2 linked regions of the Homo sapiens genome follow. The protein of the gene in region 2 purifies or fractionates together with the protein of the main gene of each other region. This does not show direct contact. Each region holds a gene or a part of one and is shown on either strand. Other genes may lie near its edges.

What was found.
Region 1: the proteins of RPE65 (region 2) and ZMYM2 purify together in Homo sapiens (affinity purification with mass spectrometry; 2 studies listed by BioGRID and IntAct, with this or other methods). This does not show direct contact.

The regions. Positions count from the first base shown.
Region 1 is NC_000013.11:19,954,600-19,961,726, reverse strand, and holds the start of ZMYM2 (zinc finger MYM-type protein 2), read right to left. Parts: upstream 3,001-7,127; 5' UTR 2,886-3,000; exon of another isoform or gene 2,768-2,885; intron 2,704-2,767; exon of another isoform or gene 2,592-2,703; intron 2,477-2,591; exon of another isoform or gene 2,135-2,476; intron 1,770-2,134; coding exon of another isoform or gene 1,701-1,769; intron 1-1,700. UniProt on the Homo sapiens protein: Involved in the negative regulation of transcription.
Region 2 is NC_000001.11:68,446,955-68,456,636, forward strand, and holds the start of RPE65 (retinoid isomerohydrolase), read right to left. Parts: upstream 3,001-9,682; 5' UTR 2,952-3,000; coding exon 2,941-2,951; exon of another isoform or gene 1,753-2,940; coding exon 1,670-1,752; exon of another isoform or gene 1,578-1,669; intron 1-1,577.

The sequences.
Region 1 (7,127 bases), on a different chromosome or scaffold from region 2:
ACGTAAAAGCAGCACTGCTTTCCGTTAGTATACATATGTTGACATTACAGAAAAGTACTGATTTTGCATTTTTTATGTTCCTCATCTCCAAATATCTACTAAACACAACCAATTATCAAGCTTCCCCTATCAACATAACTAAGAACAAAGAAAAAAAATCCTAGAAAGATAAATCTTTTGTGAAAATATGTGGCGATAAGCATCATCCATCTATTTGAAAGATCTAACCCTTGATTCATTATTGAATGATCTGATGCCTGAGATGAACTTCAAACTCATTAGAGATGTTATATTCATTCAAGTTAGCAATATTTAGAAAACAATTACAGACTGTAAATTGTACAGACATATTGAAAAAGAGACTATGTTAATTCTGATCCAAACAGCCCGTTAGTTTTGAAACAAGGCAGTATAAAAATCTAATTGATAACTGTGGTTATCAACATCACTGGGTTTTCGTGATAATTAAATTACTTAACACATGTTAAAAACTAGTGTGGGCACGTATTGATAATTTTAGAATGTGAATGATGGGTACATGGAGGTTCAGTACACTATTCTTACTAGTAAAATTTAAAGTTTCCATAATAAACTTAAAAAAAAAAAAAAAACCTTAGAATTGGGCTAGCATACAATAAGGGCTCAATACACGCCATAGGTATTACCCTGTGGGCTACTTGCTAAGATTAAAGGAAAGTGTCCTGGACTGTGCCTAGAACGGTGTATATTTAATGTAAGTTACTATTCTCACATCATCCTTCACAATGTATATTCAGCAAATGCTTATCAATTCACTATTTTTTGAACCATGTGGACTGAATACTTAAGCGTAAATAACTCATCTCTGACTCTGACAGAGATCTACAAGTTACCACATCAACTGTCAATGGGCTCCAGAGACATAATGTGTCCAGAGTGCTGACTTCAGATACTTTTAGTTTCAATTGCCTGAAGGAAAATATGACTGGCTATCTTCATCTTCCTCTCTAGCACATTACATAGTTGCCTTAAAACCAACAAATTAAATAATTCTCTGGTAACACATTCAAAAATGATCGTTAAGTTAAAGATGATCAACATGGAAGATGGGGAACGAAGAAATTAACTAGATCAGTACACTGGACTGATCAGCATACTACTTGGTGAACAAGATAGTACTAGAGGAGTTGACTCCCTTTCCTAAGCAAATACATGAAAAAGATCTAGCAACTCATGAGCCATAAGTGTCAAAATATGTGTTTCCAGCAGACATAAACAAAAATATAAATGATTATTTCTATGTTTCCAATTCCTTCAATCAATTAGCCATTGTTTAAGGAAGAAAAAATGTTCAGGTTGCATGCACAGCATTCAACAAGAAATAACTTTAATTCCCATTTTGGAACTCTAGAGGGCACCAGAAATATGCCCTCCTTCGCACCACCCCTCCTCCCGGGTAACGTGAGCAGCTGCAGAAGCCCGTCGTCTGGTTGCTGAGGTTGGTATTGCAGCAGCAGGAGCGATGTCTGCAGCGGTGGAAACAGCAGCGCCCACTCCCAGCTGCCTCACCAGCCATTACCCAGGCTTCGCCCTGGGGGCAGCTGCCACCCAAGGGAAAGCTCCTCCCCCTCAAAACAACGGGGAGGGCCAGGTCCCATAGCTTAACCCCTACAACCTGACAATGTCCTCTATTAGCAACAAATTAGGGGCAAAGGACTCACAATGGGGGTGTTTTCCTCCTCACTTTCTGCCAAGGATGCACCAGACAGGGCTGAAGGCGATTCTTGGTCCTGGGATAGGAGGAAAAAAGAAAAATGTATCAAAAACACACAACCTGGTGGGAGAACCCAACCCTTTCTGCCAGAAGGAGGCAGAGAAGGGAATAAGAGGTCAAGGAGGTTCGGTCCTTCTATTATTACCCCCACCATGCGCACAACAGCCCCCTCCTGCGTAAGTGGGGCAAAACAGCGCAAAATACATATTTGGGGCCAAAACCCATGTGAAAGGCAAAATCTGGAAGGGAGGGGGCCTAAGGACACCGAGCCTGCTCCCGGGAAGGGAGGGGGGAAGGGAAAACGTTGCCTCGACGCCAGCAAGGGATTTGTATTCCCTCCTAAATTTGCCCACCCAGCGTCATCCCCGTCACTCCAAGTACCAATTCAGAGGTAAGGGGCGGCTCACGTCACTGCTGGGCCGATATCGCCCACATTTGCCCCAAGCAGTTGCCCTGGGCCTGAGGTTTGCCCCCCCCTGCAGTCGGCGACCGGCAGCGCTGCCTCCCCGTCCGCCATTAGAGACCCAGCCAAACAATACGTGCGGAGCAAGAGCCGCGCAGCGCAGCGCCGAGGAAAAGAAGAGCGAAGGAGGGGACCCGGCGGAGCAGAGGCAGCAGCCCTCACCCCGAAAAACTTGGGGACCTCGGCTCCGGTGGACAGGGTGGGAGCGCTGCCCCGAGAGCGGAGACCCAGCCGGGGCGCCCCTCCCCCGCCCCCCGCCGGAGAGAAAGGAAAATGCCCCGCGACCTCCCCGGGCGGCCGGCACCCCCGCCCCGCCGTCCCGCCGTCCCGCCGCCCCGCCGGCCCCGCGACCCCCGCCGCTGGCGGCCGCCTCACCCAGCCCTCCCGGCCTCGCCCGCACTCTCCCAGCCCCTCGGGCCGCACGCAAAGGCGCCTGTGACATGAGCGCAGCCCCGAGCTGCCCCCGAGGCCCCGACGCGGCAGCGGCGACGGCGGCCGCGCCGCGGGGTATTAATCCCGGGTCGGTGGGAGGCTCCGGAGGCTGCCCTCACCCATCTCCGCCTCCCTAGTCGCCTCCGCCTCCGCCTCCTCCTCCGGAGGCTGCGCTGCTCCCAGCCACCCCCACTCTCGGCGGCCCTGGACTGGAAAGACAGCGGGGATAAGCCTCACCCGGTTCTGGCTGGGGCTCCGCGGAACGAACCTCCCCTCCCCCGGCCCACCCCCCTTCGGCGACACGCACAACTCCGCTCGGTCCAGTCCCGGCTTTAGCGCTGGTGAGGAGGAGGAGGCGGAGGAGGCGGCGGCGCGGCCGAGCCCGGGGAGGCCCCGCCCTCCGCGCGCTCATTGGCTGACGGGGAAGGCTGGCCGGAGCGCTTCGGGCACGCCCATTGGCTCCGACGGCCGTCCTTCAGGGCCCCCCCTCGGTAGGGTGGTCCGAAGGGCTGTCCGTCAGGTGCGGGCCACTCCCCCGGCCCTGCCGTTCCACTCCCGCCTCCGCCGGCCCTCGACTCCTGGCCGGGTCCCCTCCCCGCCGGTCCCCCGCCCCCACCCACCGGGTCTGCCAGGGTCAGGAGCCCGAGATTCGCTGCCCGCCGTACCGAACCCGCTTCGGCTCCTCGGGGCCCGGGGCTCTCCGGGACCTACACAGCCCGGGAGACTCCGGCGGGGCCGCCTGCCCTCGCCCGAGCCCGGGCGCCCAGGCCGCGGCAGCGGCTCCCAACGCCTCTGCCCGAGGAGAGCCGCGGCCTCGATGCCCCAACGCCCTCCCTGTCCAGTTGCTTGAAGGCCCCTGCGAGGGGCGAGGCCGGGGAGGCGCTGGAGCGGGTCCGAGTGGGCTTTCGGGACCGCGGGTGAACTGGAATCCCGACCGCGCTGGGGGCAGTGGAGGCCCTTCCACCCTCGCCGCGCCCCGTGGGGAATAGTCCCCCACCTCCCGCCATGGCTGCAGCAGGAGGAGACGACGTCCTCCATTTTGTCGGAACGACTGTGGGAACTTGGGACCCCCTAAAAACCAAACCCCGTGGGGCCGGGAAACTTGTCCTCGGGAAGCCCCAACTGGACTCTGCCATTCGGCCAAGGGAACAACCCCGGCTGCTGGCGTCTGCGTCCGCGGGGCCACAGGGGACGGGCACGACGGTGGAGAGACCCAGACGCAGCTCCCCGCCTCCATCAACCAAGATGGAGGGAGCTGCGGGCTCCCCTGGAGCTGGGCTCCCACCGGTTGGAGGGGCTGAGGCCTGCCCTGGGGCGTCCTTGGGCGCCGCCGTCCTGTGCTCCGCAGCCCGGGGCGCTGGCCCTGCCCAGGCCTCTCTACCGCCTGCCACCGTCTCCTGGTCCTCAATGGTTGATGGAGACTCCATGGAGGCTCCCTCCACAGCCCGCTGCATCGCGGGGCGCACTCGCTGCGGCCGCCGGGGGGAGCGGAGTCAGGGACAGACGACGACAGGCGCCCGAGGAGGGCGGGCCCCACAGGCCACCTCCACGAGGGGTCTTCTCTTTTGTTCCTCGTCTACACCTACGTCTTCGGCGGACGTCATGGTGCTGAACCATTTCCAAGACTCACGTAAAGATGGAAGCGATGTCGCTTTCGTCTCGCCCTGGCGGTTCTTAGTGGGATTACAACTGAGGATGTTGGTTATTTTCCCACCCAAATGGATGGGCGACTTCTCAATTTCACGATTATCTGACACCATTGCCTATTAATAAACATATATGATAATACAGTTTCAAGTTCAACACAATATTGATGAACATGAAGTTTTTAGTGAGGTTAATCACCCGTGAAAGACTGATGTGTAAACTAATAGACGCAACTTACAGAGGATAATCTAGTAGAAGTTGAATTCATTCACTCATTAAAAAAAATAAATCAAGTAGGCTTTCCACCTTGTACTAAATACCTTGAATACACTGTTCTCTTTTATTGAAAAAAATTAATAAAATGTACTTGAACCAGCTTTTCAAAAAGTATCACTAATTTTTAGGAAACTTTGTAACTAAAATTTTTTAGTTTTAAATACACTAAAATAGCCTCTTAAGATTTCATATTACACAGTACTGGTTTAGACTGAAAAACTATCATCACAACAGAAACATCACAACAAAAACAGCCACTATCATCAAAACAAACATCCTCTACTACCAAATTGTAATAATTTGGTGAAAACTTACATCATTCCTTTTCTGCTGCCAGGTCCTATTGAAGTAGCTTCAGCTCATTGAATTTACATTTAGAAGACTAAAGTAGACTAATACTTCCAAATAAGCTCTGTGATAAATGATAGATTGGGTTGCCACGTACTGTTCAGTTGGAGCTCTATACTGCTACTAATTCCCTAGTGTTATTGCTGTTTTATATAACTAATGAGCAACTGTGCTAATTATAGTATTTATTATTTACTTTTTAAATTCATTCAGGTACATCTGTCCATGCAACTGTTCATTGGTTTGCTGGTCTGATATCAGGGAGAATTTTTCGTTGAGAATTTAGAACTGGGAAGAAAGTATTTGTCATAATGTTAAAAAGCAGACAATTTTACATAAAAGTAATTTTAAAAATAAATGTTTGAATGTTCATAACAGCATTATTCATAATTTCCAACATCCCTGAAATGTCCATCAACTGATGAATGGATAAACAAAATGTGGTACATCCATACAATGGAATATTATTCAGACCTAAAGAGGAGTGAAGTTCTGATATACACTACAACATGGACAAACCTTAAAGACATTATGCTAAGTGAATAAACAAGACACAAAAGACCACTGAATATTTTATTCCATTTACGAGAAATGTCTATAATAGGCAAATCTGTAGAGACAGAAAGTAGATTACTGGTTGCCCAGAACTGGAGAAGTGGGGAGTAGAAAATGGTAGCTAAAAGTTACGAGGTTTTTTAATGGAGTGACTCAAGTGTTCTAAAATTGACTGAAATGATTGCACAACTGTGAATGTGCTAAAAACCTCTGAACAGCATACCTTAAATGTGTGAATTGCATGATATGTCAATTATATCTCAATAAATCCACAACTAAAACTGTGTGTGTGTGTATTAATCTATTCTGTACCTGTCAAAAAGCATACCAGACATCCAAGAGGCAGCTGCAAGACGTGAGCAAAAGACTTGTATTTCAAATATCTGGCCACTCAAAACCTCAGAAACTTACCTTCTCTCTGAGTCCATTTCCTTATTTGTAAAGTAAAGTAATAAACAGTTGTTGTGGCTGGGCATGGTGGCACCCGCCTGTAGTACCAGCTACTCAGGAGGCTGAGGCAGGAGAATCGCTTGAACCCAGGAGGCGGAGGTTGCAGTGAGCCGAGAGCGCACCACTGCACTCCAGCCTGGGCAACAGAGCAAGACTCCATCTCAAAAAAAAAGAGTTGTTATAAGGACCAAGTAACTTCTGTGAAAGTGATATAAAAGTGTTAGGTTTAATTGCATTTCGAAGACCAAGAGCTCACCGTTAATTGAGATGTAGTAAAACTGACTCTGAGCACAGCTTAAAGAGCCAGACTGCCCCCATCTGAATTCTGGCATTACCCACAACTAGCAACTAGCTAGATGCTTTTAGTCATGTGTAAGCTTCTCTAAGCCTCTGATCGTTTCATCATGTGTGAAATGTAGATAATAATTCCTCTTTCATAGAGTTTTTTAGGGGGTGAAACGAGCATACATGTATAAAACTTGCACCTTGCACCTCACTTAATATAGACCTCAGTAAATTTTAGTTGTTTTTATCATTCATACTTGACTCAATGAAATATTAGAAAAAAATTATAATATTCTACTAGGACCATATTGATATCTCTACCACCAATACTATGCTACCGCATAATCCAAATAATAATAATAATAATAATAATAATAATTGCAGTAACTAAATCAAGTAGTCTTGGGGCCGGGCGCAGTGGCTCATGTCTGTAATCCCAGCACTTTGGGAGGCCAAGGCAGGTGGATCACTTGAGATCGGGAGTTTGAGACCATCCTGGCCAACATGGTAAAACCCCATCTCTACCAAAAAATACAAAAACTAGCCGGGCAGCGTGGTGCATGCTTGTAGTCCCAGCTACTCAGGAGGCTAAGGTGGGAGAGTTGCTTGAACCCGGCAGGCAGAGGTTGTATTGAGCTAAGATTGTGTCACTGCACTCCAGCCTGGGCAAAGAGTGAGACCCTGTCTCAAAAAGAAAAAAAAAACAACAATATTTTAACAATGGAAACACTGAAGAAAATTTTCTATGAAAGAAGGAACAAAGACTGAAACAAGTTTAATATTACTTATTGATATATAAACATAGTACTCCTGGGTAGGATGCTTCTCATAGGATTCAAAAATAAGAATTTTAAATAAAAATTGTTAGTTTTAAGTTGACATTTATAATTTGCTTATACTGAATGATGTTTGGTATTA
Region 2 (9,682 bases):
CAGCTTCTTCCTCATAGAGCTGGCAGTGATTTTCATTTCCAGCCCTCGCGCTGGACAGCACTTAGAAAATGTCTGCTGACTTGACTCACCTTCACTAGGAGATCACACCTTGGGAAATGTGGAGATGCCCCAGAGTGTGGATAAAGGGTTGGAAGGAGTGAGGGAGAAGCATCTTGAGAGGATTGGGACTCTCCACCTAATAGATTTCCCCAAACACCAATCCATTTGCCTTTTGCCATCTCATTTTTAAGAAGATTTTCAAATTTCTTGATATATTTTAGTGGAGTGAGGAGTAGAAGTATGGATTAAGAGTGAGAATAAATGTATTTTAAAAAGATGTGTCTATAGAAAAAAGACTATTTAAATGAAAAAACAGGAATCCTGGCTCTTTAAAATCTAGAGCTATATCCCTCTGTGAGTGTGAGCTACTGCTTGGATGAAAGTCAATCTGCTGTAGCAGAAAGTCCACAGGGTTGGATGTCAGGGACATGACTTCTGGTTTAGGATCAGCTCACATGTCATCTCTGGACCTCAGTGTTCTCATCTGCAAAATGTGGGGTACCCAAGATAGTCCTTAAGGCCTCTCAGCTTTCACAGTTAGGTTTGTCCCTAAAAACCCAGGTAGGGCCGGGCGCGGTGGCTCGCGCTTGTAATCCCAGCACTTTGGGAGGCCTAGGCGGGCGGATCACGAGGTCAGGAGATCGAGACCACGGCGAAACCCCGTCTCTACTAAAAATACGAAAAATTAGCCGGGCGTGATGGCGGGCGCCTGTAGTCCCAGCTACTTGGAAAGGCTGAGGCAGGAGAATGGCATAAACCCATGAGGCGGAGCTTGCAGTGAGCTGAGATCATCCCACTGCACTCCAGCCTGGGCGACTGAGCGAGACTCTGTCTCAAAAAACAAAACAAACAAACAAACAAAAAAACAAACAAAAAAAACCCCAGGTAGGTTTATCCTTTGAGAAGGGCAGTGATTGACAGTGCTTCCTTGATTCCTACCAGTGAAGTTTTTCAAGCAAATGGATTATTTCCTATAACTAATAATGATACTGATAGTAATAATTACTGTCTATTGATCACTTTGTGTTGGATAGTGGGTGAATCATTCTATTTACATTACTCCACTTAATTTTCACAACATCCTCATGACGTAAATTTTGGGTTTTTGTAGGTAAGGGAATTGAGGCTCAGAACGTTTAAGTAACTTAGAGGATTCACAGACAGTGAAATGATAGAGCTAGGTTAGCATCTACATCTGCCTCCCAGCAGAACCAACATTCCTCTAATAAAATGGGCATGAAACCCACCACCCTTTAATACTCCCAGGTGCTTGTCACTGGGCCTTCATTTATTCAGACACCAATGGAACAGACATTTATAGGACATTTACTATGTGCCAGGCACTGAGCTAGGCACTGACAGTTTGAAGATGACAAAGGTGTAATCCTGATCCTTAGGGAATTCCAATTAGGTAGCGTTTTTCTGCATTAGAGAAATAAAGTAAAGGCGAATGAAAGAAAATGGGTTCTTGCTATAAAAAGCCCAAACCACCTGATCCCTCTCCCTGTGACCCACAGGGGGAGTCTGCACTGAGAGACGCCAAGGAATAGGAAGCCAGAGAAGAGAGACTGACATAAAAGAGGATGGCTTCAAGATGGGCGAGACCAACCTGTTACATGAGCTGTGAGCGGCGAGGACAGTTCCTCCACAGTTTCAAACAGTTTCTTGTAACCACCAGCAGGATGCTCAACCCTGAAATGGTGGAAGAATAAGGAAGAAGCCCATGTTGATGCTCAAAGTCCGCAGAGATAGAGGCAGAGCTGCAGGAGAGAAGGCACTCTAGGGCTGGCTCAAAGCCTGTTCACTCCTGCCGGTCTAGTCTCAGCTGGGTGGGGGTGGGGGTGGGGGGAGAAGCGAAGGTGAGGGCGGGAGGAGCACGTGAGGCTGGGGGTGGGGAAGACTACTCAGGTATGGAAGGGGGTCCCAGATCACTGCTCTGATGTCAAGAGACATGACCTCTCTTTTAATGTCAATGGTTACAGTGAACTTAATCCTGTCCTCTGCAGTTTTTCCTTACTTCGGAAGACAAATCAATCAATCCTACTGCCATCAGTTCACTTCCTGAAATTTGTTCCTAAACAGGGTCCTTCCCACAGTATTCTCCCACCCTATCAACATGCTCAGCTCACAGCATCATTGATTTTCTTGCCTCAAGGAGAGACCCATTTATCTCCTTCCTAGGGGTTGAGAGATGACAGCTTTTTGGGTCAGGTACCTCATCTTTCATTATTCACTCATATTATACCATAATTTTTTCCCCATCATCTCATTTCTCTACCAATCCCCAAGACCTACAGTACTTTTTCATCATAGTCAGACCAGGAGATTCAGGTTCTATATTTTTGTTTACTTTCTACATCCTCTGTTCAGTTTCATGTTGTAACTTCAAAGAGTGGAATCTCTGACCAGACTCAATTATAATAATTACCTTTTACTAAACAATTACTATGTCCTACATACCATAAAAAGAACTTTGCATGGTATTATCTCTTTTAAATCTCACAGTAACATAATGGAGTAAAAGCTATTGTGACATCTTTCTATATACAGGAAAAGCTAGACTTAAAAAGTTAGGTAATTTGTCCAAAGTCACACACTAGGAAATGACTGGGCAAGGAGTGGAGCCCAAGTCTGTCTGAAATCCCCATACTCAAGACTGCTTCCAAACCCCGGGCTAAGTCACACAAACCCCCCATAATTTGGACCTGAATTCTAGCTAGTTGCTTTAATACATAAGCAGGAAAAAATTTCCCCACCAAAATTCAAGGGTCTTTCCTAAACAGGTCATTAATCAATGCCTTCTCTTCAGGAGCCCTTGAAATAGCACATTTATCATGAATCCATGAAGGTGTTTTAAAAAAGTCTCCCAGAGATACTTACTGGATAGACATTTTCTTCCAGTTCAGGATCCAGAGTTCTGGCACCAACTGCAGAATGAAGAAGGAAGTTCTCAGCCAGGGGCCTTTTTATGCCTTCTAAATCCCTTAAAAGGAGTTATGGCTTTGGGAGCCCTTCCCCACCCCTTCAGCTGAGGGAGGGGGAACAGAAGTTGCTTTCAGCTCTCAGATCCCCCTGATGCTTGGCTTTATTTGGGCTTGCTGTTCCCATAACAGTTGTTTGGCTGTTTTCCAGAGACCTCAATCCTTCCCAAGGAGAATGAGAACAGATTAGAAAGAAAGGAGCTAGGTGGGAGTGGCCAGCGTCAGGCCTGAGCTGATCCCAGTCACCCCACTGGACCTTGGCACCATTCTCTGGGGCCCACCTCCCCCTAATACCTCTGTGCCTTCATTCTCACCCTCATTCATTAACTCACTTATTTTTAAAAATATCTATTACATACCACCTATGAACCAGACAGAGATGGGTATTGTCCCTGTCCCTGTCTTCACAGATCTTATAACTCTGTAAGAGTTATAGTAAACAAAGTATTCAACCATGTTTGATTAGTGCTAAGATTGGAGAAGTATAAAATGTTATGGAAGCACATTGTGCACCTCTAACCCTCTCTAGCAACCTTATTGATACCATTCAGTGCCAATATTCTTCCAACCAGGTTGAGGACTTTTGATTTGCTGAGAATGAAATTCTGCATATCTTTGCTTGTCACTAATGCCTGTCTGCTCTCTGCCTCACCTTCTTGTCCATTGGTATATGTTTGGCACTCTGAGAGTATACAGCATCAATTCATTCATATCTCCAATACTCTTTCATTAAGTCTCAGTTGCTTGCCAGCACAGACAAGGTACTGCCCAAAGAAGTCCTTGGAAAACAGGCAAGATATATACTATACCAGCTAACAACCTTAACATTTTTTTTGAGAAACTCATTAACAATTTTAAATTTAGTGTGCAGTTATGGCTACTTACCCTAGGGGTCTTCTTCAACAAAACTGTATAACAATTAATCCAAGTGCTTCCCAAGATATACAACAGTAGCTTCATTTCCTTACAGTGAGGGCATAGGCATGTGATGGGCTCCACCCGTTAGGGACAGTGGTAGAAGTCCTAATGGTAGCACCTGGGGCTTAGCATCCATAATATCTCTGCCCATCCAAGGCAGTTGTAGTGTCTCCATTCAACAGTGGAGCCCGGAATATTGTTACTGGCTGGGTAGCCTCCAAGCTCCATCCTTTAGCCATCCCAGAGATTGTTAGCTCTCTAATATTTACAATATTTGCGTTCTGCTTTATTAGAGTTAGTTCCATTATTTGCAGCTAAGAGCCCTATGCCTATAAAATGATGGTAGTATAAGATACTACCATCATATTTTGGGGGGTATAATCACTTTTGTTGGATCTTGGAGAGTAATAGAAGAGGAGATTAATATCTATCTTTCCACATTAAAAGACCTGTTTCCAAAATATTTCAAATAAGAAACTTCTCCTCAAAGTACAAGGATAATCCAAATCTTCTTAAACCAGCAATAAAAGCATAAAATTTTTATTTAGAATTAAAGCAAATACTTCTGTATCACAAACACAATATTAAACTTCAATAAATATACCACTAATTTGGAGTGAGCACTTATTTGCACAATACCATACTTTTTTTTTTGCTATGAGAATGCTTTATTAGGCAAAACCATATACTATGAAAGTGCTTTAAAATGCAACAGGAGGAGATGTGAAGACACAAAGAACAAGTGCCTAGTGACACATGGATATCAGAACACACCAAGTAAAGTATCCACACTGCTTCCACCCTTTACCAAGAAAAGGAAGGATCTAGGCCACCTCCTCCTCGTCACCGTAGGATGCTGTGGTACCACCCAGGAAGAACATTGATACTGGCATTAGGAACCTCCAGGAGAAAAAGGAAGTATCTAAGCTGAGATGGGATAAATATATAAAAGTTAGCCAGTCAAAGGGCAGGTAGAAGAGTGTTCAGGCACAGCTTGTGTTATTTATAAAAGTCTAGAGGCTAACATAAGGTGGGAAAATAGCTAGAGATGAAACTGGACTAGAGATAATCATAGGCCAGATTGTGTAGAACATCATAAACTAGGCCAGGCACAGTGGCTCACGCCTGTAATCCCGGCCCTTTGGGAGGCCGAGGTGGGCAGATCACGAGGTCAGGAGATCGAAACCATCCTGGCTAACACGGTGAAACCCCGTCTCTACTAAAAATACAAAAAATTATCCGGGTGTGGTGGTGGGCACCCGTAGCCCTAGCTACTCGGGAGGCTGAGGCAGGAGAATGGCGTGAACCCAGGAGGCGGAACTTGCAGTGAGCTGAGATCGTGCCACTGCACTTTAGCCTGGGTGACAGAGCGAGACTCCATCTCAAAAAAAAAAAAAAAAAAAAAAGAACATCATAAACCATTTACAGAAATCCAGACCCTTGTCATGAGAAAAGGGGAATCACTGAAATATTTTATCCAGAGGAGTGACATGATCTGATTTGCATTTTAGTAGGACGACTTAGAATGCATTGTGGATAATATACTGGAATAGGAGATTTGGGCAAGACAAATTAAAGGGAGGCACAGATCAAACAAGTGGAGATAGCTGTTGTAAGCAGGTACACTGAGGGATGGATACGAATAGTGAAATTCAAGAGATACTTCAGAGGAGGCCTAATCTAACTCTGGGACTGGTAAATGTGTTGGGGAAATAAAAGGCATAAAAAAGGATTACCGGTGGGTTTCTGGTTTCTGGTACAATTCATTCAGATAATGCACACCGTGTGTGTGTGTGTGTGTGTGTGTGTGTGTGTGATGTTTCAGGGATACAGAGAAAATGAATTCTGATTGTGATTTGAACTTATTTATTAAAGGAGAAGATCCCCGGGGCCTGTAATCATTTGAGAGCCTAATAGGGAGGCTGAATGAGTTAGCATCTGAAGGATAAGCTCAGTGTTGACATAGAAAAAAGATGGAGGTGGCATTCTTAGGGAAAGATGCAGAGTGAGAGAAGGCAGAGGAATGAGCATGTTAGAAAGACTTTCTCCTGCAGCATTTTTGTTGGATTTTATTTTCTCAGCAGTCTCTTCTCTTCGAGAAGAGCTACAGGCCATGTTGTCATACCTGTACACTGTCAGTTCATTGGAGAGAAATTCCACTAATATCAAGACCCAGCAGCTTTTTAAAATTTTCACCTCTCCCCTCCCATTACAAGAGGCTGAAAGAGAAGTCTTTGTCGGAAAGAAAGCGTATACTAGTTGAGAGAGAGAGCATTAACAAACTGCATTTAAGTTCACCTCCTGGGAGATGAGAATCCGGTCTTGCTGGTGCCCGTGTCTGCACCAAGTGCCTTTCTTAGATATCCCTGTGCTGCCTTTGGTGTTCTGGGGCTATAACCACATTGTTTAAGAACAGCAACTGGTTTTAGCACTTTTTGCATTGTTTTGCGTCTGTGGTATCCTTTATGCTTCAACGTATAGATCCTAGAAGTCAGCTTCTTGAAGGATATTTCTTTTAAAAGTACAAATCATGGCAATTCATTCTAGGAATGCTCACAAACCCGTAGGCCATATGAATCATCAAATTAGTACGCTTGGAGAAATTCAGGATGAAAACTAATTTCTGTGTATTAAATTTCATTGAACCCTGAGCTCCTCAGGTATAAGACAGGGAAAATATGCAAAAGCATTCTTTAGCCAGAAGTATTCCATATGAATATTAAGTAATGCTTATTAATGTCAATTCTCAGGAAGTTTGAGAGTGTCTAATCTTCTAGCTACTACTTCCTACCTCAGAAGTAACCCATTTTTTTCTTATTCTGCCATTGGTGTGAAGTTAAAGATCAGATGTCCACATCCTTTCAAAGCATGATTTTGACCTCTTTGCTCCTATATCCTCAAATGTAGACCTCTTTTCTAGGTCTAACTTTATCTTTCTGTGGTTTCAGTGTGATACACCGGATCCCCAATGTATTGTTACTTCTCTTTTCATCATCTCCTTTTATTCCTTCCCCACCTTAATTTTTTGTCTTTTGGTAAAATCAGATCTTTATGTCCAATTTCTGTGTCTGCCTAAGAAACTGTTATTTTGACATACTTTGGTGTATTTACCAAAATAATATTCCATGAATTAAAATAGCAAAACACCTTTCTACAGAGATTTCTAAATAGAAACTGATTCCACATTTCTTTGAAGAAACTGGTTTAGAGGGTATTATAAAAGCTGCTTTTTCATCCTGATATTAGGCAGATCAGCTGGGGCCTGCAGGTCATGGTGAGGAGTTTGGATTGAGTTCTGAGAGCAATGGGAAGATATTCAGGGCTTTAAACAGGGGAATGACTGAGGGATCTGATTTATGTTTTGGAAAAAAATCACTCCCACTGGTATTTGAAGAATGGATTATAAGTGTCTAGAAAGGAAGTAGGGAAACTGGCAGTTCATTTCAGGTGAGGTGATGATGGTGCTTAGATTACAGTAGAGCAATGCATATGGAAAAAAGATTGAAAGATTTGAGATATGTTTTGTAGGTAGAAATTATAGGACACATGATAGGTTGATATATATGGGATATAAGAAAATGAGTTAAAGATCATCACCTATCTATTGCTAACATTGTAGCATAAAAGCCAAACAGCAAACCTCAGTGTCACACAAGAGTAAGTTTCTCGGGTGGTTGGCTAGGTGTATCTGCAATATGTCTTAATTTGCTTTCATAACTGGAGTTTACCTTGCTGTCTAGATACTGGCTGAAATAAGTGAGGTTATTTGGCTCTGCTATACCTCTCCTCTCCAGCAGGCCAGCCAGGGCTTATTCCCCTGGCAATGACAAATGAAAGAGCAAGTGATAACAGGAGAAGCCGCTTAAGGCCTAGGCTCAGAACTGATCTACTGTCACTTTCACCACTTTCTACTAGCCAAAACAAGTCATGTGGCCAGCTTAGACTTTGAGTGGGGTGAAAATAGCTTTGACCTTGGTAGTCTTCAGTGAGAAGGACTACAGTGTCACACTGCAGAGGTCATGAAAACAGGGAAGGATGTAGAATTGAAAGCATTTTTTCAGCACATGGGAGACCCAAATTCGATTTCTAGGTTTTAGAAAGAGCAATTGAATGACTGTCAAACTAGTCTCCAGGACTAGGGGAGAAATTGCTGAGTGGAAATGGGTATATTACGAATTCTCAGTTAAACGTGAGATGTGAGAAGCCTGTAAGACATTCATCTTCTCCAAGACACTTACTTGTCCCTCTTGCTCCTTCCCCAATAGCAGCCCTCATGCTACCTACCCTGAAGGAATTTTCTCAGTAGAGGTAGGATTTGACCCAAAGTAGTCTGAGCCTACATTTTATAAGTATTTCTTCCATCCACATATAGAAGTTCTAGCAAATATAATTTTCTCATTTTCATTACATGCTCAATGATACTTTAGTACTCCTTATAGACAGATGATCCTGGAGGCTTCCCAGCTGACTTGCTGGAAAGTTAGCTGGGAAGGGTTGAAATCTCTCTTCAACTCATTCCCAACCATACTGCCAGAGGCATTCTTTTAAAGGAAAATCTGACCATCTTCCTTCCTTGAGGTTTTTAAGAGGTCTACAGAACTTACTCAATAAAGTCCAATCACTTTAGCACAGCTATAAGATCCTTCCCATCTTGTCCCCTGCTGGCTTCTTAGTGCCATCATCTGCCATTTTCCCCTTTCCTTTGTGCTCTGGCAGTACCAAGCTGGCCACTGTCTCTCATGGATTGCATATTGTTTCAGGCCTCCCTTCACTTTGTTGAGCCCTTTGCTTGGGCCTCCCTTCCTTCTCTTGCCCGTCTGTCAAATTCCCAGTGTCTGTCATAACCCTGATAGAGTACAACCTTCCTGGAATGCCTCAGACAGGATGGTATCCTTTGTTCTTTTTCTGAAACTCATATATGTCTAGACCACATTATATTATTTCACTCGTTAGCATGTCTGTCTTGCTCTTCTTGCTTATTGTAGAGAAATAGAATTGTCATGCTTAGCACATTGATATTTGGCTAAACTGTTCAATACCTGTCAGGGTGGAAACTGGAGACAGCCACCTGTTCCCTCAGGGGAAAATGGACAGACTAGCAAAGCTTTGCACTCACTTCTGCTTCACACCCATAAATCACATGCAAGGCAACCTTCCCTGCTCCTCTTGTCTCTCCACCACTGCCAGAACTTAGTCTGCCCAGGCATCATTCAAAAATGTCATGGGGAAGAGGGACCTAGGGATAGCCCTGGCCATGTATCTTTCTATTTTCCCCCCTCTAGTGGATGTCAGAGTGCCCTCTTGCTGGTGGGTTTCATCTCTCATTTAGAGAATCCTTCTTGCCTTCCACTGCCTGTGTGAGTAATAAACATCAAAATTACTTGTGGTCTCTGGCTTGAGTGTGATATGTTTTGACATTTAATGTTTTGAAAAGGTAGCGCCTGGCAGCAGGCTTCCTGCAACACTTCTGCTTCATTATGCTTAGGGCATCAGTACAAGAGCTTAAAATTTGTTGATGGTTGACTAAGTTAGTAGAGGCCCACTAGAAGAGCTGCCTGAATGAACTGAGCAGGCAAGAGTAAAAGTTTTGTTTATAAATGAGTGCTTAATGATTTTTTTAAAAAGAATTTGAAGTATTTTACTTAAAATCTTGATTGTACTCTGATTTTAGTTAATCAGCTCTTGATTCACATCCACCAAAAAAAAGCACAAAAGAGGATTCT